Regions from separate parts of the Homo sapiens genome. Here region 1 is linked to region 2. Evidence: fine-mapped expression QTL. Tissue or cell type: whole blood. Region 2 holds a variant in brackets; the other region holds the start of a gene. All regions are shown on one strand. Distances are between the middles of the regions.

Region 1 (8,151 bases), 190 kb before region 2:
TATTTTGTATTACTCTTTCCAGATCCGGTCTCTACTTCTTACTACCCTGCTCCCTGCCCTTGGAGGCTGATTTTTATGAATTACATCAATGGGCTCCCTTGCCTTCTGGCTTTTGATTGGGTTTGGACAATGGAAGTCAGGGGAAGAGGAAATAAGGTGATTTCCCTGGATCCTCCCTGCAAGGTCACCTCAGGATAGTGTCCTTGATTGAAGGTCAGTGCTTCTTCAAACTATATTCTACATTTTTCTCCTCATTTCAGATTTCCCTCTTATTCATTTCTCTTTCTTTTTTTTTTTTTTTTTTTTTTTTTTGAGACAGAGTCTTGCTCTATCTCCCAGGATGGAGTGCAGTGGTGCGGCCTCAGCTCACTGCAACCTCTGCCTCCCAGGTTCAAGTTATTGTCGTGCCTCAACCTCCAGAGTAGCTGGGACTATAGGCATGTGCCACCATGCCTGGCTAATTTTTGTATTTTGGATAGAGATGAGGTTTCGCCATGTTGGCCAGGCTGGGCTTGAACTCCTGGCCTCAAGTGATCCGCCCACCTCTGCCTCCACCTCCCAAAAGTGCTGAGATTACAGGTGTGAGACACTGTACCCAGCCCCTTCTATTTCTTTCTTTATAGCCTAGGAGTTATTGCTTTTCTCATGTAAATACCTAAACTCTGGCCACACCTTTGTAAAACAGTCCGTTTATTAAACCCTTCTGGGATTATTTTGAGTATGTCATTGATTTGCTTTAGATACAATGCCTCTGGTAGTCTCAATAATGGTCCGAAAGATACCCAGGTCCTAATCTGTGGAAGCTGAGAATGTTACCTCATATGGCAAAGGGACTTTGTAGGTATGATTAAGTTAACCTTGAGATAGGAAGACTATCTTTAACTATTTTGTGGACCAAATGTATTCACAGGGTCCTTACTAGAGGGAGGCAGAAGGATTTTAAGAGGAAATGACATGACAAAAGCAGCAAGAGCTTTGAAGATGCAGTGCTGCTGGCTTTGAAGATGGAAGAAGGGGCTGTGAGTCAAAGGAATGCAAAGAATGTAGCTCCAGAGGCTGGAAAAGAAGGGGGCAAGGCCTTGCTGTATACCTTTGTTTTGGCGCTATGAAATTATTTTGGTCTTGGCCGGGCATGGTGGCTCACGCCTGTAATCACAGCACTTTGGGAGGCCGAGGAGGGTGATTCACGAGGTCAGGAGATCGAGACCATCCTGGCTAACACGGTGAAACCCCGTCTCTACTAAAAATACAAAAAATTAGCCAGGCGAGGTGGCAGGCGCCTGTAGTCCCAGCTATGTGGGAGGCTGAGGCAGGAGAATGGCGTGAACCCCGGGGGTGGAGCCTGCAGTGAGCCAAGATCGAGCCACTGCACTCCAGCCTGGGTGAAAGAGCGAGACTCCGTCTCAAAAAAAAAAAAAAATTATTTTGGTCTTCTAGCCTCCAGAACTGCTAGCCTCCAAATTTCTGTTGTTTTAATCCACTAAATGGGTAGTAACTTCTTACAGCAGTCATAGGAAATTAATACAGTGCCCAAGATAGAACTTTTCATTTTCCATACAAATTAGCTCCTTCCTATTGTTACCAGGGGGTCTTTGTTCTTAGAGCTCCCAAGATGGTGGCAGGCCACTTCCAAGATGGCGGCAAGCCTTTTGTTCTCTGACCTGGGGTTCTTGGCCTCACGGATTCCAAGGAATGGAACCTTGGGCCATGCAGTGAGTGTTATAGCTCTATTAGAAGCCGTGGGTCACAGAAGAGAACCGTGGAACCCAGCAACTAGTGTTCAGCTCGATTAGGACAAACCCTGGGCACTTAGCCTTGCAGGAACAATGGCGAGCCTCTAGCCCGATTGGGAGCAGCAATGGGCGCCTCGCTGGATCAGGAGCACAGTGGACACCCTGATGGATCCAGAGGGGTGGAAGTCAGCGGCGGGTCTGTGATGGCAGCAAACAGCGGTGGTGGACGGTGAGTGAAAGCTCAGCTCAAGCTGTAACAAACATGGACCAGAAGAGTGTGCAGTTGCAAGATTTAATAGAGTGAAAACAGAGCTCCCATACAATGGGAGGGGACCCAAAGGGGGTTGCCACTCCCTGCTCGAATGCCTGGGTTTATATCCTGATCATTGTCCCTCCCCCTGTGCTCTCAGGCGATATATGATTTGACTATTTCTTTACCTTCTGCTTCTAGCCTAATTTGTATTTTAGTGAGCCCTCTTTACTACCTGATTAGTCGGGTGTGAACTGAGTTACAAGCCCTGTGTTTAAATGTGGGTGTGGTCACCTTCCCCAGCTAGGTTTAGGAATTCTTAGTTGGCCTAGGAAATCCAGCTAGTCCTGTCTCTCACTATCTTGTCCACTTGGTTGTTTACTTTTTTATTTTTTTATTTTTAGAGACAGAGTCTCTCTGTGTCACCCAGGCTGGAATGCAGTGGTGTGATTGGTCTCAGCTCACTGCAACCTCTGCCTTCCAGGTTCAAGCAATTCTCCTGCCTCAGTCTCCCCAGTAGCTGGGATTACAGGCACGCGCCACCACACTTGGCTACGTTTTAGTGCTTTTAGTAGAGATGAAGTTTCACCACGTTGGCCAGACCAGTCTCAAACTCCTGGCCTCAAGTGATCTGCTCTCCTTGACCTCCCAAAGAGCTGGGATTACAGGGGTGAGCCAGTGTGCTAGGCCACTTGGTTGTTTAAATACGAGATTTGATTCTTCCATTTTCTGTATGCTTTACTGCCATTCCATCACTAACTCCTCTCAACCTGATGCCCAAAAATATATCTTGAATATATCTACTTCTCTTCCAAGGTTTCCGGCACATGGTAGAAACATGATAACTATGTAATGAGTGGATGCATGACCCAATCTTCCCTACTTCCATTCCAGTCTGAGCGCCCATAATTAGTCAATCAACTAGCTTGTCTTGGTTCTTTTTCCTTAGGCCTTCCACAATCTATTCTTCACATTACAGGGAAATTAATCTTTTCAAAACTGTAAATTAAAGCAGATTATTCTCTAGCTTAATATCCTTTACTTATTTCCCAATGCACTTTGAGTAAAATTCAAATGTTTCATTGTGCACTGCAAGGACACCTATGTTTTGGAAGTTTCCTATCTCTCTGGTATCTTCTTTTGCATCTCTCTGAAATGCTGCAGCTCCCGCCACCCGACCTCCCCGCCTTTAGAGTTGAGGCATAAGACATTTCCTTTGTCGAGAAGGGTCTTTGTTTAACTGGCATTTTAAGGTTTAATCTTAAAGATTACGCCCTTAGCCAGGTGCGGTAGCTCATGCCTATAATCCCATCAGTTTGTGAGGTCCAGGAGGGCGGATCATTGAGCTCACTTGAGCTCAGCAGTTCAAGATCAGCATAGGCAACATGGCGAAACCCCATCTCTACAAAAAATACAAAAATTAACCTGGCCTGAGCACTTGTAGTTCCTAGCTACTTAAGAGACTGAGGTGTGAGGATCGCCTGGGGCAGGGGGCGGGCAGAGGGAGGTTGCAGTGAGTGGAGATTGCGTCAGCAAGACACTTTCTCAAAAAAAATCACGCCCCCCATGAAAGGCTTTCCTTTACCACCCAACTCCACCTTGGTTACTCTATCACAGCTCCCTATGTGTTCCCTTTCCAGCATAAATCACAACTATTTGTCAGTGAATTCCATGACAGAACGAACCTAGCTTTTGTTTGGCACATAATTGTTAAATGAATGCAGTATTATATTTGGCTAGACCAAAATTGTTTCCCTATCAGTTTGTGAGCAACTTGAGGGCAGAGCCCTAAATCATTCGAGTGTGCTGACCTCTAGGGGGGTTAGTCCAGTGCATGGTCTAGAATTGCTCAAATCGGCCTTTTGAAAAAATGAATCATGTACAATGATAAAGGTGTGGACAGGACCACAAGTAACGGTGTAACGATTAGCAGATTTAAGGAAAAGTCAGTCTAAAAGGAAACGTGAGAAGCTAATTGCAGAAGACAGCCATTTCAAGTCTTCAACAGCAAGGCTGTACCTCCTCACGTGACTTCAGTGTAGACTTTAAGAACCTAAACTAACGCTTCTCGCGAGAGGAAAGATTGACCGCTCGCAAGCGTACATCAGCTGGTGCCCCGCCTTCCCTGGGCCCCACCCACTGCCTGTCCTCATTCCCACCTTGAACCAGCCTTTTGCGCGTGTGACGTCATGGCGCCGTGCGTGGCCTCGGCGGTGGCGCAGGGGGCGGGCCCGCGGCGCGGCGCCGGAGGAGGAAGTGGTGAGGTTGTTGCTCCTTCAGCGCCTATCGCTGGCTCTTGGGGCGCAGAGAGGGGCCGCAGTCTCCGCGGCTGCGTCGAGCTCCCTTGCAGTCCCCTCCATGTTCCCCGGCGCCACTACTCCCCTTCCTAAGGCCGCCGCTTACCCCGGGGTCTATGGAAGTAATGGAAGGACCCCTCAACCTGGTGAGTGTCCCACAGAATATAGCGTTCGTCTTGGGTGCCTTTGCCTCAGGAGCCCGGCCCCGTCCCCGGCGCGTCGGCTAACCCTTTAGGCTGGGAGGTTGGTTTGGCAGGAGTGGTCGCAGAGGCTGTGAGGGGCTGCTAGGCAGGCCCTGGCCCAACTGCGGCTCCAGGCTAGCCACTTCAGACTTTGCCCTCCTGGGGGATCCCCGGGAAGTCCTGGCGCCCCCTGTCGCGGGGCCCCGGGCGAGGGGATGCCACCACCTGGGGCTGCCACCTCCTCTCTGGCTGGGGGAAGTCCTCTTAGCGCCACGTAGCCACCTCCCTACAGCCTGGAGAGGCACTGAAGCCGGCCAAGGCAGAAATGGTGTGATACTGGTTTTAAGTTCTAGCAGCAGGGTCTGAGTCTGAGTCGCCCCGCTTTGGAGAGGTGGAGGAGTGAATAGCCTCCTCACCCTCCACTTCCCCCTCCTCACCCTTCACTTCCCCCTCCTCACCCTCCACTTCCCCCTCCTCACCCTCCACTTCCCCCTCATTTCTCACATACATTCACATGCATAAACTGAGTCTACCGTCTTCCAAATATATTAGAGACAGCTGGGAAAAAGACAGCCGTTCCTGTATTTAGCTCAGATTCATCAATTTAGGCATCATGAAAGTGTAATAGGTGTTTGCTGTTCTCAGGAAAATGGCTGATAGCCTGTTTACTTGTGTTTTAAGGCGTTTCAGGTGTTGCAATTAAAAAACAACACAACAGAACCCCACTAACAACGGGAAGCATGAGTTCTTTTCAGACTGGCCATTGCATCTTTTAGTTTTCCAGAGAGGTTACCCATTTTGGATGTAAAAGTCAGATTACTTAAGGTTGCACACAGGAAGAACTTTTGAGTCACAGGTTTGCAATTCATTTGCGATGGTGGAATTGAAAGAAAGCTCTATAGAGGATTCTTTTCTCACATTAGAACTCTGAGTCCTAGAAGAGCAGTAGAGTCAGGTGGTTTAAGACTCTAGGTTTTGAAGCTATGCTGCTTGGATTTGAATTCTAACCTCGTCACTTGATATCTGTGTTACCTTGGGCAAACTACTTGGCTTCACTCGGCTTCAGGTTTTTTGGGAGGATTAAAGGAGTAAATAGGTGTAAAGCACTTAGAACTGTACTAAGTACATAGTACAGTGTAAGAGTTAGCGATTATAACCAGACCATAAGCCCTTAATTTAAAATCTATTTGTAGAATAAAGGTTTGGACTTGAGCTTTAAAAGCCTAAGATTCTCGGACCAAATCACTGGTGCCAGGTTAACTGTTGTGAGGCGCCCCTCCCTTTTAAGTTGGGTCTTGCCCCAGGTGGTAGGTATTTACACTTAAGACGAATTGGACTACATTTGCGAGTTTTTTTTAACCAGGGAACTGGCCAGGCGCCGGGGCTCACGCCTGTAATCCCAGCACTTTGGGAGGCCGAGGCGGGCGAATCACTTGAGCTTAGAAGTTCGAGACCAGCCTGGGCAACATGGCGAAACCCGGTCTCTACAAAAAATACAAAAATAGCCTGGCGTGGTGGCGCCCGCCTGTGGTCCCAGCTACTCGGGAGGCTGAGGTGGCAGGATCGCTTGAGCCCAGGAGGTGGAGGTTGCAGTGGGCCGAGATTGTGCCACTGCACTCCAACCTGGGCGACAGAGCGAGACTCTGACTCAAATAACCAGGGAACTGTCTTGCACTTTTCTTGTTTTTAAGGCGACATATAGTTGGCAATGAAATACAGTGGATGGCTCAATACTGAAACTTCACAGGAGTATTACTAGAAATAATCAGCTGTTTACGAAGTGCTTCAGAGTTCAGGTGTCCTTGCCAAATGAGCATTGGTTCAGTTCTAGTTAGCTTCACATTATTTGGCTGCAGAATAACCCCCGCCAACTGCCCCACGAATGTGTGATGTTTTAAAAGGAGACTAGAACTGGGTGACAGTTGCAGATAGAACTGCAGAATCACTACCAGTTCAGGAAAAATTAGTTAAATGGTGGCAATACCATTTAAATTCTCCTCCATAAAACGGAGCGAGTTTCGACAGAGTCTTTTTAAGCAGGCTAGCGTAACTCCGTATTTCAGCCATAAAATTTATGTAGGCAAGTATCAGAAATTTGGCATCTTGAATTCTTTTTTTTTTTTTTTTTTGAGATGGAGTCTCTCTCTGTCACCAGACTAGAGTGCAGTGGCGCGATCTCAGCTCACTGCAACCTCCGACTCCCTGGTTTAAGCGATTCTTCTGCCTCAGCCTTCTGAGTAGCTGGGATTTCAGGCACGCGCCGCCACGCCCAGCTAATTTTTGTATTTTTAGTAGAGACGGGGTTTCACCATGTTGGCCAGGATGGTCTCGATCTCCTGACCTCGTGATCCCCCCGCCTGGCCTCCCAAAGTGCTGGGATTACAGGCGTGAGCCAGCGTGCCCGGCGGACACCTTGAATTCTTAAACCATTTGAGTCTTGAAAGATCTAATTTCCAGCATAGTTGTTTATTGGAAGGTAACAGTAGAACAGACGTTGACGGTTACTTGAATGAGTACCAATTACAGGCCTCTGGCACTCAGAATTGTCACTCACAGTTTTATAAGATGAGGTTTTTGAAAATTCAGACTTTTTTTTTTTTTTTTTTTCTTTTTTGAGACGGAGTCTCGCTTTGTCACCCAGGCTAGAGTGCAGTGGTGCGATCTGGGCTCACTGCAGCCTCCACCTCCCGGGTTCAAGCAGTTCTCTGCCTCAGCCTCCTGAGTAGCTGGGATTACAGGCATGCACCACCCTGCCCGGCTATGAAAATTCTGACATTCTTTTATGTCAGTGAACACCTAACTTAGTATCTAGTTGACTCAAGATGAGAGTTCTCAATGCTATAATTTGAATGTCTTTGAAAATTCCACTAGTATTATACAAGCTTTTTCTTTTTCTATACTCAGAGAGTTACTAATGCAATAAGCTTTGTCAAATGACGTCGTAGTGTAGTCCAAATTCATTGTATAAGGACTTATCACAGTACATGGATTTGTAATCATGTGTCCTCAGAGCATCCTCGGAACTTAGTAAGGTGTGTTTTCCAGTTTTACAGATAAATAAGCCTAAGCTGAGAGAATTAGGTAATTACTTAGGTCAGTAACTTAAATACATTATGAATCACGAGTTATTTTGATATCAAGACCTCTTTCTAGCAATGCTGCCATATTGTACTCATCATGTTCATTTCAGTATGGTTCTCATCTATATTGAACTGTAGATTCTGTGTTAGCATTTATTACCTCTGCTCCAGTATTGATTCTTTTATGTTAGGTTTGGCAGTAAGGGCCTTAGAAATTCCTCACAGTGAATTTTTAAGATCTGGAAGAGACTAGTTTGAAATATTCATTTTAATATGTACCACAGAGGTAATGGATTCTAATTATCTGGTTATTGAAGTTTGTCAAAAGAAAAATTGTACTTCCACTGAAGAAAAAAATAGCTAGTCTTTGCACTCTGAATAACTTTGTTTCATTAGGGTTTTTTGGTCAATTTTTCTTTAAGAGACAGGGTCTTACTCTGTTGCCCACACTCAAGGGATCCTCCTGCCTGAGCCCTCCACAATAGCTGGGACTACAGGTTTGCACCACCATGCCCAGCTAATTTTTTCAAAAACTTTTTGTGGAGATGGGGTCTTGCTGTGTTGCCCAAGCTGGTCTTGAACTCCTGGCCTCAAGCAATCTTCCTGTCT
Region 2 (8,275 bases):
ACTCCAGCCTGGGCGACAGAGCGAGACTCCATCTAAAAAAAAAAAAAAAAAAAAAAAGCTAATACATTTTCTGCTTACATTCAAGAGTTACTGCTGAAAAAGTGTGATGCCAATCTAATTCTTCTTCATTTGTTTGTGACTTTTTTTTTTCCCTCATCTCTGCAAGTCTTTAGCATTTTCTTTATCTCTGGCAGTCTTATATTTTAACTTTAACGTATGTTGTGTTTCTTTCTTCTCTCTTGACTCTGAACTCCTTTTAATCTGAAATTTCTCACCTCTCTCTTTTCTCTCTCACTTTAATTCTAGAAAACTATCCCTTTTATCCCTTTAAGTATTTATTCTCCACTTAAAAAAAATTATCTCCCTTCTTAGATTCCTATCTTCTGGATGTCAATACCTTTATTTCTGTATTTGATAGCTGTCAATTTTTCTTTTATATTTGCTATTTCCTTGTCCTTTTATCCCCGTGAAATATTCTCTTTAATCTTCCAATTAACAATTTTGTTCTTCAAATAGATCAATTCTGTTATTCATCTTTTTGTTTGTTTGCTTGTTTTCTCCACGACAGAGTCTCGCTCTGTTGCCCAGGCTGGAATGCAGTGGTGCTATCTTGGCTCACTGCAACCTCCACCTCCAGGTTCAAGCAATTCTCCTGCCTCAGCCTCCTGGGTAGCTGGGATTACAGGCACATGCCACCACACCCAGCTAATTTTTTTGTAGTTTTAGTAGAGACAGGGTTTCACCATGTTGGCCAGGCTGGTTTCAAACTCCTGACCTCAGGTGATCCACCCGCCTCAGCCTCCCAAAGCGCTTGGATTACAGGCATTAGCCACCATGCCTGACTCAACTAATTGTTATATTTTTAGTAGAGATGGTGTTTCACCATGTTGGCCAGGCTGGTCTTGAACTCCTGGCTTCAAGTGATTCGCCTACCTCAGCTTTCCAAAGTGCTGGGATTACAGGAGTGAACCACCATGCCCAGCATATCTTACATTTTGTATTATGTTTTTGATATTGAGTAATTTTTTCTTTTAGATTTTATTTCATATTATCTTCCTCTAATATTTTTAATACATTTATTAGGATAATTTTATATTCATCATTTGTCTAATCTAGTATTTCTACTACTAATGGCATCTGTAATCCAGTATATTATTTTTCTTTCCTTTGAATGTTTTATTTGGTCTGTGTGCTCATTTTCTTCTAGGAAAATACATTTAAGCAATGTATATAGACGATGTCAGCCCACAATCACTGTCAGCCCCATTGAGCTCAAGACATACAGGTGGAAAATACCTAAGGTGGAATATTCCAGGCAGCAGAAAACTACAATCTCTCATCTTTTCTCAAAACAATTCCTTGGGAAAGTAGCTTCACTATTTTTTCACATGTTAAAGCATCTAAATGGAGACTCTTCTTCGACTATTGTGATAACATGAAATATATATTTGTTTTTTGTCTCCATTTCCTGACATACAGCTTCTAAAATCCTTGTAGATACAGGCACTAGGAGAATCTTTTGTTCTAATATTTGTCCTTTGACTCCTGGTTCCTGACACCGAGCTCCTAAATCCCTAGGAATTTCCTAGGTGACAGAAGACTCTTTTGTTCTAATGAGGCAATCTTGGTGGGCTTCTAGATAGCCCCAGGATGGTGCTTGTTACCAAGGGAACCAACCATGTGTTTAGAGAGTTGGAAAGTTCATAGCCCCACCCCAGACCTCCAGGGAGAGGAGAGGGGCTGAATTGAGTTGATCAACAATGGCCAATTATATAATCAATGATGCCTATGTAATGAAGTCTCCATAAAACCCCCTAAAAATAGAGTTTGAATGAGGTTCCAGACTGGTGTACAAGAACACATCCACGTGCCAGGTGGGTGGCACACACAAACTCCACAGGGATGAAAGTTCCTGTTCTCTGGACCCTTCCAGATCCCATCCCATGTATCTTCATCTGGCTATTCATTTGTATCCTTTAAAATATTCTTTGTAATAAATCGGTAAACATAATAAGTAAAGTGTTTCTCTGACCTTTGTGAATTGCTCTAGCAAACTAATTGAACATGAGAAGGAGCTGGTCTATAGCTGATCAGTGAATTTTATAGCTGCTCAGTCAGAAGTATAGGTGACAACCTACTACTTGCGATTGTCATCTGAAGTGGGAGGCAGTCTTGTGAGATTGAGTCCTCAATCAGTGGGATCTGACGCTAGCTGTAGGTAGACAGCGTGAAAAAATAATTCAGTTGGAGGATATCCAGCTCATGTCTGCTGGAGATCTGCTAGGTGTGTAAGAAAATACCCCAACACATCTGGTGTCAGAAGTGTTGTGTTGAGTCGACAGTGGAAAAAACAATTTGGTTTGGTTTTTCCTGCATCTCTTACCAACTATAGCGTATTAGCACTGAGAACTGTCTGGGTAAGAGGTAGGGAAGCAAAAGTTCATTTTTTAAATCCACTCAGAAGGAAAGGGCCTCTGCACTATCCTGAATTGACTCCTCAAAATATCAAAGGTCTGATACTTTACAAGTGTACGCGAGTTAGGCACCTTTGCTTCAAAGGCGTGAAGAGCTTCAATAGTTCCTTTCCTATTTTTTCTTCTGATAGCCAAGAGGATGCCCTCTCTCTTGACCTGGGACAAAGCTTCTCTATTCCACACACCAGTTCAAAACAGCCTTTCTTCCACCAACCTAGGGGATTTCTCACCATTTGCTCAGAACATTTAGTTTTCCCTTCTAACTGCTGAAGCTGACCTTGGGTGAGGAAGCCAAAAGTCACACTTCTTGAATGTCTTTTAAGGAATCTAAACCAGTTCATTCATTGTAATGATGAAATATCTTCTCATCTGAGTATATTAAGAGGATTTTCCCCCAAAGCTTTCAAAACAGTTCCTTGTATTTTCCTGGCTATTCTTTTTTTCCTACATGTTTATTCTCTCTCATGTTGGGAAAGCTCTTTTCAAATGTTGCACATGCCTTGGTTATCAATTTACATAAAAGAGAAAAGAATATTATTAAAATGAGTGGATGTCAGTTTACTGAGGATCTCACCTAAGGACTCTAAATTTTCAGAATTTTTTTCCTCTGGAAAATTCAGATTTCTACAAAGACAAAATCCCCCTCTAAACTCTTAGTTAAAAGGTATATGCCAACCTGCAGTATATTATGAGCGCAAGAGATGGAAAGTGACTTAGGTGGAAGGGACTCAGTACGATGATTTTAAAGCTGCTAAATTGTAAAATACAAAATGCAAGAAATTAAGATAGAATAGGGTTTAACTTTTTACACTTATTTGAATTGTTAAAAAATTTTCTGGCCAGGCACGGTGGCTCACACCTGTACTCCCAGCACTTTGGGAGGCCGAAGAGGGAGAATCACAAGGTCTGGAGTTCAAGACCAGCCTGACCAACATGGTGAAACCCCGTCTCTACTAAAAATACAAAAATTAGTGGCGCGCTCCTGTAGTCCCAGCTACTAGGGAGGCTGAGGCAGGAGAACTGCTTGAACCTGGAAGGCAGAGGTTGCAGTGAGCCAAGATCGCACCACTGGACTCCAGCCTGGGCAACAGAGTGAGATTCCATCTCAAAAAAAAAAAAAAAAAAAAACTTTTTTTTTTTTCCTAAGTTTGTCAAGGCACAGTTGAGGAAAGAACAGAATCTATATCAAATGTTAATATTAATGTAATTAATATATATTGATGTATATTAACAATTGTTTACGTATCTAGTCATAAATACAGAGGCAGAGCTGGGAAAAGTATTTAATATATATAAAAATTTAACATATACATACATAGATCTATATATGAAAATTAGATAATGTTGAACAAAAAGTAGAGAAGAGAGAAAAGGAAAGAACTGCCGCCTTGGGCAAGACCAAAGCAGCACTGGGTAAGAGTATGCGAGACAGTAAAGTCAACAAAGCTGTAATGACAGCTATGATGGACAGGTAGTGCTAAAGCTGAAACACAAGGAAAAGCCTGTTGGCCACAACAAATTAATTAAGCCTAGAAACAACAGTGGTGCCGGGTACAGTGGCTCACACTTGTAATCCTAACACTTCTGGGAGGCCAAGGCAGACAGATCACTTGAGGTCAGGAGTTTGAGTCCATCCTGGCCAACATGGTGAAATCCCACCTCTACTAAAAATACAAAAACTAGGCTTGGTGGCACGCACCTGGAATCCCAGCAACTCGGGAGGGTGAGGCAGAAGAATCACTTGAACCCAGGAGGCTGAGGTTGCAGTGAGCCAAGATCGCGCCACTGTACTCCACCCTGGGTGACAGAGCAAGACTGTTTCAAAAAAAGAAAGGGGGGAAAGAAACAGCACTGGTATTTTCTGAAGCACAAGTTATAAAACAATGTTATCCATTCAAAAACCAGAAGTCATACTGATAAGAGCACAATAAGGCCAGGTACATAAAACTAAAAAAATTCAAGGCATACTTAGATGTGATATAAAATGAGATGGCTAGTACAATGGCCTGCGGGGGCCATCTTGTGCATTCTCTCAATCTTCAAATGTCTTTGTATTAGAGTTCTCCACAAAAACAGGACCAATAGAGTGTGAGCATATTTGTGTGTGTTTCTCTGTGTGTTTGCATATGTGTGTGTGTATACATATATATATATAGGCTCATTATCTCATATGATTATGAAAGCCAAAATCCCATGATCTGCAGCCCACAAGCTGGAGAAACAGGAAAGCCAGTGGTGTGTCTTGGTTCAAGTCTGAAAAATGAAGAACCAGGAGCACCCACATCTGAAAGCAGGAGACAAGGATGTTCCAGCTCAGAAAGAGCCAATTCATCCTTCGTCTGC[CT/C]TTTTTTTTTTTTTTTTCTATGTGGGCCCCCAAAGGATGGACAATATCTGCCCAAATGGATAAGGGTGGTCCTTCCCTACTCAGTCTACTAGCTCAAATGCTAATCTCTTCGGAAACACCCTCACAGACACAGTCAGAAATAATATCTTACCAGGATCTGGGTATCCTGTGGCCCAGTCATGCTTACAACATAAAATGAACCATCACAGTCCTCAACCAACACTATCTCGTATATCCTTAAAACAGAGAAACCAAGGTTCAGAAAAGTTACCTACTGTCACAAAAGTAAGTAAACAGCTAAACCAAAAATCAAACTCGTGTCTATCTAAATCAAGAGATCAAACACAAATGCCAACTAAGATTCTGTGGAGGAGATAATAGTACAAAGTTAGGCCCTTGCTCCAAGAAAGTTCCTGCAGACGGAGATCAGATTTATACACATCAAACAATACAAACCCTGTATTATTCTATATTGACTACAACTTATAAACAAAGAAGCCTAGAGGAAAGAAAGATTCAGAATTAAACAGATTCCTTCATTCAATGAATGCTTCTTAAGAACTTGATATGTGACAAGCACTGGTAACCACAAAGTCAAAGCAGTGTGTTAACAAAACTCCTACCTATAGAGCTCATAATCCTGTGTGAGTGTAGAAATGGCAATAAACAAGTAAACGTGTATGTCAGATGGTGATAAGTGATTTAGAGAAAAATAAGCATTTTCGGGAAGAAAAGAGGTTCCAGGGTGGTGGTTTATACTGGGTAGTCACTGCATGTAAGTCTAATCAGAAAACATTTAATAGAAAAGACAGAACTTGAACTAGGCTTTCAGCTAGATTTTGAGTTAAATTGTAAATTGCTGGAGTCATGAAATCCTTAGCTTGCTTCATACAAACCAAACATACATTTTTACTGTCAGCTGGCTATCTACCTAAAGCCATCATAGGTGGCCTTTATTCTCATAAAATGACAAAGATATATATAGTCTAATTCTTAATATTACAAACTCAGATATCTGATTTTGTAAGCATACTGAGACTAGATGTCCTATTAGGGACAAACTTAGTAATCAAGCTCATAGCTACTGATATATAAACCAGAATGCAAATTTATTACTTTAAAATGATAATTATTAGCTGTTAATTAGTGTAGAAAGCATGGGGATTAACAAATAATACAAACTTTTCCTTAGGAAAGCTAAATCAAAATATTACTTGATAAACACAAATGACGTAAAACAGGGGAATAATAAGCCCAAGAATACTAGAATAGGGTTTCTTCTACCTCAGTGTTTTGGTTTTTTGTTTTGTTTTGTTTTGAGACAAGAGTTTGGCTCTGTCACCCAGGATGGAGTGCTGTGAGGAGATCACAGCTCACTGCAGCCTCAATCTCCGCGCTCAATCAATTTTTATCCAGTTCACCCTCTGGAGTAGCTGAGACCACAGGCACACACCACCCACCCAGCTAATTCCTCCGACAGTGTTTAAATAAGCAATGTCAATTTCTGGCTCTTTGGACCTCTCTTTTCTGTATCTAGAGCCTAAAAAGAACTTTCTTCTTTCCTTCTAAACTCAAAAAAGGAGTAAATACAACTGATTAGATATCTAATTACTAAATTCAATTACATTTTGGTGCCGTCTCTCAAATTCCTTAAGTATGTACTTGACATCCAGTTAACTTATAATATAACTGATAAACAGTTAATTTACCCAAAAATATTTCATTTATTCTGGACACAGTTAAACATAATCCTTCTTAGAATAAACTATAAATCTCAGTGAACTACCTTATTTCCAACTTTTTAGGGATCATATACTTGTTTCCATATCCCTCCAATGTCTTAATGCATATATTCTATGTAGATCAACATACTTATATTTATTCCATTTACATATTAACTGCTAAATCCATCATAGCACAGTTGTTTTTGAATTATAAAAAATTATTTTAAATGACAACAGCAATATAATGAAGACAAAGATGCATATGTGAGCATAATATATTTTAGTACAACTAAGAACATCTTTCACGTAATGAAGTATCCACATAGAGGAACAATGAGCAACATGAATAGGTGACAAATAAGAAATGACATTTGTAATTGACGGGGAAGCGTAACAATTTCTGAGAAGTGTAATAACACAGTGAAAGCCGTGTTTAAAGATGATAAAATGGCCAGACGCGGTGGCTCACGCCTGTAATCCCAGCACTTTGGAAGGCCGAGACAGGCGGATCATTTGAGGTCAAGAGTTCAAGACCAGCCCGACCAACATGGTGAAACCCTGTCTCTACTCAAAATACACTGTACTCCAGCTGGGAGACAGAGCGCAATTCCATCTCAAAAATAAATAAATAAATAAATAAATAAATAAATAAATAAATAAATAAAGATAATAAAATATGGTAACAATTTATTACAATGGCAAGAAATCAGTAATGTTATAAGATACTGCCTATAAAGCCTAACATGAAACACTGAAGGTCCACATCAGACTGGTGGAGGCGGAGAGGTGGACAGACATTGGACACTGACACATTACTTAAAATACCAGGAGCTGGGCCAGGCACAGTGGCTCACGCGTGTAATCCCAGCACTTTGGGAGGCCGAGGCAGGCAGATTACCTGAGGTCAGGAGTTCGAGACCAGCCTGACCAACATGGCGAAACCTGGTCTCTACTAAAAATACAAAATCAGCCTAGCGTGGTGGTGGGTGCCTATAATCTCAGCTAATCGGGATGCTGAGGCAGGAGAATTGCTTGAACCCAGGAAGCAGAGGTTGCAGTGAGCCGAGATCGTGCCATTGCACTCCAGCCTGGGCAACAAGAGTGAAACTCTGTCTCAAAACAAAAAACAAACAAAACCAGGGGCTGGGCATGGTGGCTCATGCCTGTAATCCCAGCAGTTTGGGAGACCGAGACAGGAAGATTGCTTGAGTCCAGGAGATTGAGATTAGCCTAGGCAACACAGTGAGACCCCATCTCTACAAAAAATACAAAAATTAGCCCGGTGTGGTGGCATCCACCTGTAGTCCCAGCTACCGAGGAGGCTGAGGTAGGAGAATCGCTTGAGCCCAGGAGGCTGATGCTACAGTGAGCTGTGAATGCACCACTGTACTCCAGCGTGAGCCACAGACTGAGACCTCGCCTCAAAAAAACTAAAACAAAAAACAGGACAGCCTACAATCTGAAAAGGGGCAAGTGTTATGAGAACACAATAATAATAATATCTGGGGCTTAAAAATACGTTTCTATGTAAACATGCTTCACCTTCATTCCAATACTTTGCTTCATCAATGTAAATAAGCCTACACAACTGTGGTTTTATCTGCTGAAATTCAATTTCTAAAAGGGTGAAACAAATAGAGAAAGTTACTTCATTGCCATTATATGTATATTTCCCCCACCCCCAAGTAAAAGCCTTTTAGTGCTGGCAGAAGAATAAATTTGGGCTAGATATA

The links. PIP is the estimated chance that this variant, and not a neighbour inherited with it, causes the effect.
Region 1: NRBF2 starts here. The variant in region 2 is fine-mapped to the expression of NRBF2 in whole blood (INTERVAL, PIP above 0.99).

What each region holds. Positions count from the first base shown.
Region 1 is chr10:63,129,075-63,137,225 of GRCh38, forward strand. It overlaps NRBF2 (nuclear receptor binding factor 2), which reads left to right and starts at 4,254. Exons shown (of 4, transcript NM_030759.5): 1 at 4,254-4,426. The coding sequence starts at 4,397. RefSeq lists silencers at 4,071-4,320, 4,531-4,800.
Region 2 is chr10:63,319,222-63,327,496 of GRCh38, forward strand. The region is part of intron 2 of JMJD1C (jumonji domain containing 1C); the gene reads right to left. Among named protein-coding and RNA genes, the nearest start is that of MIR1296, 50 kb to the right of the region's middle. The variant CT/C (reference allele first, on the strand shown) is at 4,818.